Linked DNA regions of Homo sapiens: regions 2 and 3 are each linked to region 1. Evidence: fine-mapped expression QTL. A gene starts in region 1. Each other region holds a variant in brackets. All regions are shown on one strand. Distances are from middle to middle.

The links. PIP is the estimated chance that this variant, and not a neighbour inherited with it, causes the effect.
Region 2: its variant is the best candidate, but not a certain one, in a credible set for the expression of ARHGEF11 in whole blood (TOPMed, PIP 0.85).
Region 3: its variant is the best candidate, but not a certain one, in a credible set for the expression of ARHGEF11 in whole blood (INTERVAL, PIP 0.81).

The regions. Positions count from the first base shown.
Region 1 is chr1:157,043,263-157,047,262 of GRCh38, reverse strand. ARHGEF11 (Rho guanine nucleotide exchange factor 11) reads left to right here and starts at 1,521. Exons shown (of 41, transcript NM_198236.3): 1 at 1,521-2,964. The coding sequence starts at 2,933. RefSeq lists a silencer at 1,311-1,610.
Region 2 is chr1:157,092,671-157,096,670 of GRCh38, reverse strand. It overlaps ETV3L (ETS variant transcription factor 3 like), which reads left to right. Exons shown (of 5, transcript NM_001004341.2): 5 at 3,544-4,000. Among named protein-coding and RNA genes, the nearest start is that of ETV3L, 5.1 kb to the left of the region's middle. The variant G/A (reference allele first, on the strand shown) is at 1,534.
Region 3 is chr1:157,080,063-157,084,062 of GRCh38, reverse strand. No RefSeq gene overlaps it. Among named protein-coding and RNA genes, the nearest start is that of ETV3L, 18 kb to the left of the region's middle. The variant G/A (reference allele first, on the strand shown) is at 2,054.

The DNA of each region.
Region 1 (4,000 bases):
ACTTCTAACACTGGTGAGGTCACTCCAGAGCTCACGAATGTGTATAGATAATTTACATATACATATCCACCCCCTCCCAGAACAATCCAGGTAGTGTGAAAGGAGAGAACTTATGCAAACACCCCACTGCCTGCAGAGTATTTTACAATGGCATTTACCTAGGCAAGAAGGCAAAGTCCACTCCCCAATCCTAGTGAGAGTTTTTTTATTTTAATAATTTTTTAAAAAAAATTTTATTATTATTAGTTTTTTGAGACGGAGTCTCGCTCTGTTGCCCAGACTGGAGTGCAGTGGCGCAATCTCGGCTCACTGCAAGCTCCGCCTCCCGGGTTCAAGCGATTCTCGTGCCCTAGCCTACCGAGTAGCTGGGATTACAGGCACGCGCCACCACGTACGGCTAGTTTTGTATTTTTAGTAGAGGGGGGGGGTTTCACCATGTTGGCCCAGGATGGTCTCGAACTCCTGACCTCAGGCCCCGCCTCGGCCTTAATGATTTTTAATCATAACGCTCGGCACCTTCTGACAAATGTCACGTTACTTGTAAAGATTTAGAAACTGTGATTCTATGAGAGGGGGTTATGAAAATAGAATTGCTCTGGAAAGGCTCTTCCATAGAGTTCAAAGACACTTCACACAGCCTGCTATTAAGATGCCCAACCCAACCCGAGAGGAAACAGCGAAGGGTCTTCCCCCTAAGTCGGTGGTATTAGAAGTGGGAAGGACCACAGAAACGGGAGGAAACAGTTAAAAGAACTGACACCACGAAGGAGGCCGCAACAAATGTTTGAAAAATAAGATCAGAAGAGAGGTGGAGAGAGGGTGAGCCGCAGCTGCGGGCGCCGGGGTAATGCCGGTGGACGCAAAGAGGTAAACCTGCACCCGTGGGCAGGGGCACGGGGCGCGGGCACGGTGGCTGGGCGGGCAGGGGGTAGGAAACAAAGGTCGGCTCCCGAGCAGAAGTCAATAAAAGGGGGAAAAGCAGCCGAGGAAAAGCGGCGAAAAGGCGGCAGGGGTGGCGGTGGCGGTGGCGGCGGCGGGGACGGCGCGCGGTGCCTGGCGGGGTCAGGGCCGGGGTCGCCCGCGGGCCGGGCCGGGGATCCGGCTGAGATGGGAACCCGCTAGGCCGCGCCGAGGGGCAGGGCCGGCGACTGAGGGGCCGCAGAGGGGACCGGCCGAGGAGCGACGGCAAAGGGTTGTGGGGGGCAGGGCGCGCAGGGAGGCCGGGACAGGGGCGGGCCGGTCGGCGGGAGTCGCGGCCGCGGGAACCGAGGCAGGGAAAGGCGGTCAGCTTCCCGCCCCCGCCCCCGGCCGCCGCGGCGTGAGGGGAAAGGCCGGCGGGCGGCGGGCAGCGCAGCGAGGAGGAGGAGCCTGCGGCCCCGCCCCGCGGGAGCGAGGGAAGGAGAAAGGCTCGCAGGGAAGGAGGGAGGGAAGGGGGGCGGCCGGCCGGGCCTGCGCCCGAGCGAGCGGCGAACCGAGGGGGAAGGGGCCCGGAAGGAGGCGAGCGCGGCCGCGACGCCGGCAGTCGGACGCCCGCTCGTGCCGGCCTGCCGCAGCCGCCGCAGCCTTCCCTGTGCGCCGAGCCTGGCGTCCCGAGCGGCCGCGAAGGCCGGAACACGGCGGTCGGGCGCGGGGCGAGCGGCGCCGGGAGCCCGAGGCCCGGCCGGGCGTCCTGCGCGAGGCACTGCGGGCTCCTGCCTGCGAGATTAGGCGAGGGGCGGAAAGGGAGGCAAGGAGAGGCCGAGAGGAGACAGGCGATCGGATTTTCCAGGAGTCTGGTGTGGAAGAAAAACCCACCTCGAACTCAAATCCACAATAATAATCCGAACGAATAATAAGGGAGCCGTCTTTCTGGCCGGGCGAGAGAGAGGGAGAGAGAAGGGGGAACGGGAGGAAGCGAAATCTCCGTTTCATGGAGGCTGAGGCAAGAGAAAATTTCGGAGCCTGGATGTGGAGGAGCCCAACAGCAGAACTAACTCAGGAAATTGTCTTTCAGAAAAAGGCCGAACGTAGGCTGGGTCTGAGAATCAGGCTGGGGTAGGTGGAGGAACCTGCAAGTTTAAAGGAAAAAGAAAAGGAGAGAATATTTTCAGAGATTATCTCTGGTTTGTTATCATTACTACCATCTTAAAGGTAAAAAGCATTGCATTTCAGGTGTTCTTTGATTTTTATTTTATTTTTTTTTTTGGTGCAATTGGCTCATTTAAGAATTTCAAAACATTTAATGTAAAAGCTTTTTTTTTTTTAAGGAAGTCCATAAATTTTGGTTCCCAGGGTTGCACTGGACTTGGAAGGAGTGCTGTTGTGTACATACTATTGTATGGTTTTATTTATTATTTTACTGTACAAATCAGCCGAAAGAATTTTTCCAAGTGCCATTTCGGATTTATTAATCCTTTTTTTTTTCCTTTCCTCAAAGATATTTGCTGTTGTCATATTAAGCATTGGAGACTAGAAAATTACTTTCCCCCTTTGAGCTAGAGGGTCTCTTGCCAACAGAAGGACAGCTGAGAAAGCTGGATTTAAAGGATGGTTTTATCTGTACTTTGCAGTTAACAGTGATATTTTGAAGGCACATTTTTCTGTGATTCATTTTTTTTTGGCCATAGTGCTAACCTTGAAGAGATTCGTGGCTGGGTTTTTGGTTTCTGAGAAGGTCGTAGTTTTTCCTCTTTTCCTTTTTTTTTCTTTTTTCTTTTCTTTTCTTTTTTTTTAAAGCGGGGGAGGGGAAGAGGGGCTGAGAAAGGAAATCATGTTCACTGGTAGAAGTAGAGTGGAGCATCAGTTACCAGGGTCCTGAGAGCTGGAGGAGAAAGGATTCTATCTTCAAGTTGGGAGGCCCTCCTCTCACCTTGCTCAAAAATTGCAAGCGATTCAATCCTGATCAAGACACCAAAGCTACAGGATTCTGGAACCGTGGAGACACCGAGAAACCATGAGTGTAAGGTTACCCCAGAGTATAGACAGGTAGGTTTGCTAATAATTTGATTTTTCAACATTGACTAAAGGAAAGACTGGGAGGGGTGGTGTTGCATTTTAATAAATGGTTGAAAATAGGGGTCTGGGTGGGCTATGGGAATTGGTGGGCTAGGAGCATTAGTCTCTGGGGACTGTCAGCCTATGTGGTTATGTGCAAAAACATAGCTCTTGATTCAGCGTCTTTTGAATATAAGCAATAAACAGTGAAGCCAGGAGAGGGAAAGGAGGAGGATGTGCTTCCAGTGGCTTTTGACTTTTGCCAGGGTAGAGGCTGAATTTGAGTCCACCCAACTTGCTAGTCTCAGGTGGGGGCAAGCCAGTCTTGTGAGCTCCTAGGGTTGCACTAGGGGGACTGGCTTTAGGTGTTGGAGCTGCTGGGAGAAGGGCCCTGGCAGAGGCGTGGGCCTCCACCAGGCTGGTTGGTATGGAATGGTGGGGCTTGGTGACGGGGTGGATCCCATTTCTAGAAATGAAGAGGATGTTCTTGGCCTGAATGATGGGACAGAAACATCCTTTGCACCCATGCAAGTCTGGATTTTTACCAGTAGCTGACATGGTCCCAAAATGCATAGATCACATTAGAATTTCCTCTCCTCCAAGCTTAGAGTTTGAATTGAGACCTGCCAACCGGCTGATGCTCTAGGTTTAATCTTCCAAGCTGTTCTTAATAAGCTTGACTCTGCAAAATGGGCCTTCCCTCTGCCTGGAGCCAGAAGAAATTGTTTTGGGCTCGTAGGCCTGCTGGGCAGCAGCACTGGCCCTCAGAGTCTGAACACATGACACCCCTTGCCCCAAGAGTCTGCCCAGCCACCTCTATCACTGGTAATGTTACTGTGTGGTTGCAATTCTTACCTCCAAATGATTGGTACAACTTTGTAAGGTGTCTGCCTTTTCCTTCCCTCCCCTACCCCTCCTCAACGCTTCTCCCCATGAGAACCTTGCTGTGGGGGGTGTGTTTTGTGGGCACTGCACACATCCTAACTGGATAGATGGGTGGTTGAAGGACTGAACAAGCAAATGAAAG
Region 2 (4,000 bases), 49 kb before region 1:
GGGATTACAGGCGTGAGCCACCGCGCCCTGCCAGACTTTCATTTTATAAAGATGACTGTGTGTGTGTAGAGTTTGGGTTGGAGGAAGCATAAGACTGGAGTTGGGAGGCTTTTGAAGATAATCTAGGCAGGAGATGATGGGGCGGTAACCAAGACAACGGCCATGGGATGAAGAAGGAGGCTCAGCTGGAGAGAGATTGGGAAGATAGGGTTCATTCACTCATTCACTCACTCATTCATTTCTTCTTTCAACAGATGCTTAATGACCTCCTGTTTAATTTGCCAGGCACTGTCCTAGGGGCTAGGAAGCCAATGTGAGCAACACTGCCTTTATGGGACTTATAGGCAAGGGGGGTGCAGATATTCAACTAATGATCGATAAGTGATTATAACTGTGCTAACTGCTGCAGAGGAGAAGTGCAGGGTGCCGAGGGCATCAGGGAAGACTTCCTTGACAAAGTGACACTTGAGATGACACCCAAAGTATACGTGAGTGTCAGCTTAGCTCAGAGGGAGTAGGGAGAGCATGGCGAGCGAGAGAATAGTGTGTGCAATGGCCCTGGAACAGAGGGCGAGCGAGAGAATAGTGCATGCAATGGCCCTGGAACAGAGAGACTGGGAGAAGGCCAGTGCAGAAACACATGGCCAATGAGTGGGAGAAGAGGTGGAAATGGAGGCAGACATCAGCTCTTACAGAGGCTGTGAGCTGGGAACTGACAGTATCAGATTTTCTGTGAAAAAGATCACAGAGACACTTGGCCAAACCAAGGCTCTTGTGCAGAGGTCAAAGAATTGCCCCTCTACTCCAGCCAATTTCATGGAAGAAGGATCCATGGCCTTCACCCCACCCCTGAGCTGCTGGGGGCCCAAGCTCTGCACCCCTGGGAGTGCAGCTGAGGCCATGGGTGTGGGGTGCTCCAGGGCCTGCTGGGACTCGCTGGGCCTGGTCTGGCAGCCTGGAGCTAAATAGCACCTGAACAGTCCTCCCTGTTTCTCCACCCCCACCCACCCCGTCCCAGCTCTGGGAATGCCTTGGGCAGAGAGCTTCTCTCTTTAGGAAACTATAAGGGAAAGAAAAAAGTGTTCCCTCTCCAGGTGGATAGTGGTAGAAAAAAAAAAAGAAAGAAAGAAAGAAAGAAAAAAGTGTTCCCTCCCAAGCCCCACTTGGAGTGGGCTATTTTGCACCTCCCTCCCCTCTGCAGGCAAACACACATGCCCTGCCTATGCTTTGGCCCTAAGGGATGCTAAGCAGGTATAGGTCACCAGAAGATTGGAAGCAGCCACATGCCCCACTTCTAGATTGAGATTCCAGAAGCCTGTGCCAGCCCCTCACCTCCACCCCTCACTCAGAGCATTTGGTGCCAAGAAAGGAAGCTGCTTCCGGGAGTGCCAGGTCTATTGAGCCGGAGGCAGGGAGCTGCAGGGCCAGTGCTGGGAAAGGTTGGGAACCTGTTGGAGAATGAGAGGAGGACTCTTAGAAATAAAAATATCTCTTCCACATGCCCTCAGGAGCCCCGAGGGACACAGCCTTCCC[G/A]TGCAACAGCAGTCTCCACCTCATCTAAGGACCCAAGGAAAAGGACAATGACCCAGAGAGAGGGTGTTCTGATAGGGGCCTCCACACTTGTTCTTTAGAGGATCACTGTCACTGTTTTCTCCCTACATAGATCTGACTTCAGAAATATTCTTCTTATCAAATACACTGGACATATTAAGTAATAACTAATTTGTTTTTCCAGGTTTTTTTTTTTTTTTTTTTTTGAGACAGAGTTTCACTTTTGTTGCCCAGGCTGGAGTGCAATGGTGTGATCTTGGCTCACTGCAACCTCCGCCTCCCGGGTTCAAGCAGTTCTCCTGTCTCAGCCTCTCAAGTAGCTGGGATTACAGGTGCGTGCCACCACGCCCGGCTAATTTTTGTATTTTTAGTAGAGACGGGGTTTCATCACATTGGTCAGGCTGGTCTCGAACTCCTGATCTTAGGTGATCCGCTCGCCTCGGCCTCCCAAAGTGCTGGGATTACAAGCGTGAGCCACCACACCTGGCCTGTTTTTCCAGTTTTTATTCACTACAGCCCAACCAATGTGACTAAGTTGGGTTGATGCTTGTTCTTTTAGTTAAATGATGTGGTCTTGCTAAGAAAAATGTGGAATTGCAGTTAGGCTTTTCGAAATACAGAAAGTGATGTGAAGTTCTATATAGTCATCTCCAAGGCCCCCAGCTGGGAGGCCCTATTGTAGGGCCCTGGCAGGGTTGGAGAGGGAAAGAGGCAGGATTAGAAGGAGCAGGAAGAAGGAAGCCTTTTTGGAGGTGGAAAGTTATGGACCAGAGTGAGACAGAGAAGAAGGAGGCTGGGGCTCCCCATACCTGCCCTGGGCCTCCCGTCATGCACTCTGCAGGGCCTCTTCTTACCCATGACACAGCTTAATCCAAGCTAGGAGAGGGGATTTTATGGATGAAGAAACAGAGGACTGCAAATTTAAATGACAAGGCCAAGGCCACACAACCAGTTCTTTGCCCGGCTAGACTGGAGGCCCTTGCTGCAGGGGCAGGGAGTGAAGAATGGATCCATTGAGATATAGCAGAGAATATCCTTCCCTTATTCACTGGACACATTTTTCTTGAGCACTGATTATGTCCAGACTGGGTAGATTCGAGGGAAAATAAAACAACTACAGCCCCTGCCCCCAAAGAGTTGGGCTCACAGACATTAAATAAAAAGCACACAAATGACTACATGACCCTAACTCAGCCGAGTGCCCTTGGAGGAGAGGTTCATGGAGGGATGAGAGCAGGCAGCAGGCACTCTCGCCTAGGCTAGGAGTCTCAGAAGTCTTCTCCAAAGAGTGATATTTATGATGAGGCCTAAAGAAAAGCAGAAAAGGAGCTGTGCGCGGTGGCTCATGCTTGTAATCCCAGCACTTTGGGACGCCAAGGCAGGTGGATCACCTGAGGTCAGGAGTTCGAGACCAGCCTGACCAATATGGTGAAACCCTGTCTCTACAAAAAAATACAAAAATTAGCCGGATGTGGTGGCATGCACATGTAGTCTCAGCTACTCGAGAGGCTGAGACAGGAAAATTGCTTAAACCCGGGAGGCGGAGATTGCAGTGAGCCAAGATCACGCCACTGCACTCCAGCCTGGGCTACAGAGCAAGACTCTGTTTAAAAAAAAAAAGAAAAGAAAAAAAAGAAAAAAGAAAAGAAAAGCATAAAAGGAAGGGCAAGCCTGGCAACATGGCGAGACTCAATCTATACAAAAAACACAAAAATTAGCCAGGCATGGTGGCACACGCACCTGTAGTCCCAGCTACTCAGCAAGCTGAGGTGGGAGGATCGTTTGAACCCAGGTGGGGTTCAAGCCTACACTGCAGCCTGGGTGACAGAGAGAGACTCTCTCTCAAAAAAATAAGACAGAAAGAAAAGGAAGGGCAGTGGGGCGAGGAAGAGACTTCCAAGCAAGAAACAAGAAGGGCTGGGAAATGGGAGGAGCAAGGAGCATCTGCGAGAGGTTGGGCTCCCTTGACCCTTTCTCTCTTTCTTTCTCTAGGACTTGGCTCTGCCCCAGGCCCCTGCCGGCTGGGCCTTTGCTGCCATTTGGGGAGCGTCCAAGGCGAGCTGCCTGGTGTTGCCTCCTTCACTCCTCCCCTCCCGCCCCCTCTGCCCTCCAACTGGACCTGTCTCTCGGGGCCCTTCTTGCCTCCTCTCCCGTCAGAGCAGCAGCTCCCAGGGGCTTTTAAGCCAGACATCCTGCTCCCAGGACCTAGGAGCCTCCCAGGGGCCTGGCATTTTCCAGGGCTTCCTCTCTTGGCAGGGCTGGGACAGGGTGCGGGTGAGAGGCTTTGGCTCTTGTCCCTCAGGCCCGAGGGGCTGGAAGTAAAGCCTGCTCCCATGATGGAGGCAAAGGGAGGCCTGGATCCCAGGGAGGTCTTCTGCCCAGAGACCCGCAGACTCAAAACTGGGGAGGAAAGCCTTACTTCCCCCAATCTGGAGAACCTCAAAGCAGT
Region 3 (4,000 bases), 37 kb before region 1:
CAGGCAGGGCAACCACAGGGGAAAACTGAGTGACCACCACCATAAATACCTGGAGGGTTCAGCCAGAAGAAAGCAAGCAACAGGTGAGACTGGGTCTTTGGGCATCCTAATGCCATGAGACCCACGCAGCTCAGATACCATGGACCACTGCCAGGACTTAGCAATGGAGCCAGGGATATCGTCCAGTCCATCCATTTATTTTTTAGTTGCAGGTTCAAAGGCCCCTGAGGAGAGTTGTTCCAGGTCATCAGGAAAAGTAAAACCTATGTATGAACCCCTGAGTGTCAATCACACTCACTTTTCCTACCATCAACTTGCTGTGAACTGATGGAGAAAATCTCCCAACTGCAAGACTTGTTGCTACCATAAACCCCTCCCTCTCCAACCTCATCTGGCCCTCACAAGCCTTTTGCTAGTCCTGGGTCAGCTCTCAGCATCTGTTCTAAATCTTCCCCCACCCACATCCCACTCCCTTCATCTCCAAAGTCTACTGCAATTCCTTGGCCAGGCGCAGTGCCTCACACCTCTAATCCCAGCAGTTTGGAAGCCTGAGGCAGGTGGATCACCGGAGGTCAGGAATTCAAGACCACACTGAACAACATGGTGAAACCCCGTCTCTACTAAAAAATACAAAAATTAGCTGGGCATGGGGGCAGATGCCTGCAATCCCAGCTACTTGGGAGGCTGAGGCAGGAGAATGGCTTGCAACCTGGGAGGTGGAGGTTGCAGTGAGCCAAGATAGCGCCATTGCACTCCAGCGTAGGCGACAGAGCAAAACTCCGTCTCAAAAAAACAAACAAAACAAAACAAATAAAAAAACAAAGTCTACTGTACTTCCTACTAGGGCTTCCTTTCCTTCCGCCAGTCCTTACTTCTAGTCTCAAGAATGGGTTGTTCCTGACCCAGTGATGTAACCCCTCCACCTGTACCAAACAAGGAAAGTCAAGCAGGTGTTAGCTCTTGTGCCAACTCCAGTTAATTGACTGGGACGCAACTAGGAAGCACATGGTCAAGAAGGATTCCAAGGTTGTGCTGGGGGCTTAGGAAGGAGAGTGGTGCCGTGTTTTTTTCCATGACTTTCATAGTACTAAATCCAGTGACCACATTTTTGTCCTTATCTTATTTTGTCCTCTGGTTGTGACATCATGGACAGCCCTTTGTTCCATTAGCTGCCAATATCCATCCCTTCCCAATTCTCTCTTTCCTAAGACTGTTGCTTTTCAAACTCATTTCTGGGCATTCCTCTGTATCCTCGACTTTGGGGTTCTCCAGAACACTGGTCCACAGCTCTGTGTATTTTACACATCCTTCCTAGAGAGTTTCCATCTGGGCTTCTCTCTGTGCCTTAACCACCACCTAAATGCTGACTGCTCCTAGATCTGTATGACTAGCCCTGACCTCTGGCTCAAGCTTCAAGGTCATGGGTCCAAATGCCCACTGAGCATTGCTGCCTGGATGTCCCATAGGCATCTCAAACTTAGCATGTCCAAAATGGAACTCTTTGTCTCAACACCTGGTGCTGCCTTCCGCTCTCCTTTTCTTTCTGTTCCTTGCTTTAGTTAATGACACCACAATACATCCAATTATACCAAAGCAGGAACCAGGGTGTCAGCCCATGCTGTCTTTTCCCCCACCGCCTATACCCAGTAGGTTGCCAGATCCGATCAGTTTCACCTTCTAAACATTTCCGAAATCTGCTTTCTCCTGGACAACTCTACACTGACTTAGTTTAGGCCCTACAGATAGTCTAATCTTGTCCCTTTCCAATCCATACTCCATATTGATCATTTAACTTAAAACTCTTCAATGGCTCCCCTGAAAGGAAAAAAAAAAATCTCTCTATCCCCCTAGTGATGATAATTTATATGTACTATAATGTCATTTAAAAAGATATAGACATAAAACTAGGTATAAATATATATTTATGGCACATAAAACTATAAAAGCAATGGCAATTTACCAATTAAATAGAAACAAAACTATAAAGCCAATACATTTTAAAATAAAAACATTAATGTATTGTGACAGATGATGTTTGCTGAAACTAATTGCT[G/A]CACAAAATGCGATCGTGGAATGGAGAGTTCCAGCTCAGGGTCTCTGGAGTTTGGCACGCTGTGCAATGACTCACTTCTCCCACCACTTTTCTCTATTGGAACTTCTGCTCACCCTTTGTTCATTCAGCCTGCTGGGAGGACATTTGGCCTCCTCCAGGCTCAAACGCATCATTTACATATTAAGTCCTCCTCTGTTCTTTTCTAATTAGCTGAGACAATTAAAGCAGCACTACTTGGTGCCAGCTCATCACAAACACAAAGACGAATGCAGACACTGAAATCATTTGGCAATACAGGTTATAAAGTGCCACCCAGATGATCCAAACCATGATTATCTCATTTGTTTTTTATATTATCATTAAAAGTAAGACACAAAAGTTAACATTTTCCTAGAAAGTCCATGGACTTCAGATGAGACCTAAAGAGCCAGGCCCAAGCTCCCTACAACATGGAATCCAGGAGCTCATCACTGGACCCCACGCACTCACAGACACACTTCTGCAGCCACTTCCCAACACCCGCTTGGCACCCTGGTGGTACCAAATCGCTTGTGTTTCTGTGCTTTGGATGTCTGCTCATCCCTCCGACTGACAGGCCATGCCTGCCGTCTTCTTAGGCTAACTCCTCCTAATCCTTTAGGAGTTTGCTCAGAAGCTCATCTTTTTTTTTTTTTTTTAGACGGAGTCTTGCTCTGTCGCCCAGGCTGGAGTGCAGTGGCGCGATCTCGGCTCACTGCAAGCTCCGCCTCCCGGGTTCACACCATCCTCCTGCCTCAGCTTCCTGAGTAGCTGGGACTACAGGCACCCGCCAACACGCCCAGCTAATTTTTTTGTTTTTGTACTTTTTTTTAGTACAGACGGGGTTTCACCATGTTAGCCAGGATGGTCTCGATCTCCTGACCTCATGATCCGCCCACCTCTGCCTCCCAAAGTGCTGGGATTACAGCGTGAGCCACCACACCCGGCCTAAATATTTCCCGGCCCAGAAGCTCATCTTGACACCACAGGCAGGGTCAACTGCCTTTCCTCTGTGCCTAGCTTTATCATAGCACTGACTGCATCGTGTGCAAATTACCCTGGAATGTAAGCTGCCCCAGGGCAGGGACGAGGCCCTATCAAGCTCTAGATAGGGCCTAGATAGGGTCTGGCATATGGCAACACGCAACAAGGGCTGCTGAACTAAAATCCAGGCTCCATGCTGTACTGGAGAGAAACTCTGACGGTGGCTGGGCTGTAGAACTTGCTTTGATGACCGTCTGTGATCTTAGACATGTCATTTCATCACCTCGAGCCCCAGCTGCCCCAACTATGAAACAGAGATGATACAGATATACTGGTACAGGTGCAAAATCACAAGGAAATTTGATGCAGCATGATTTCAAAAGAAAAATATCGGAAGCGCCTAAATGTCCACCTTTGGTGTGCTGATTAAACAAATAATGGTACATCCATACAACGGAACACTATGCACTGTCAAAAAGAAAGCAGAAGCTTATTATGTACTGATGTGGAATTACCTCTCAAGTTTGTCTTAAAAGAAAAAAGTGGGAGCAGAAGAGTATATGTGGGATTTTACTATTTGTTTAAGAAGGGGGAAAATACATATATAGATTTGTGTTGACTTGATTAGGTACTAAAATGCTTGAAAAGGACCGGGCACGGTGGCTCACGGCTGTAATATCAGCACTTTGGGAGGCCAAGGTGGGTGGATCACTTGAGGTCAGAAGTTCGAGACCAGCCCGGCCAACATAGTGAAACCCCATCTCTACTAAAAATAAAAAAATTAAAAAATTAGCCAGGTGTGGTGGTGCACGCCTGTACTCTCAGCTACTTGGGAAGCTGAGGCAGGAGAATCACTTGAACCCAGGAGGCAGAGGCTGCAGTGAACTGAGATCATGCCACTGTACTCCAGCCTAGGTGACAGAGCAAGACTCCACCTCAAAAATA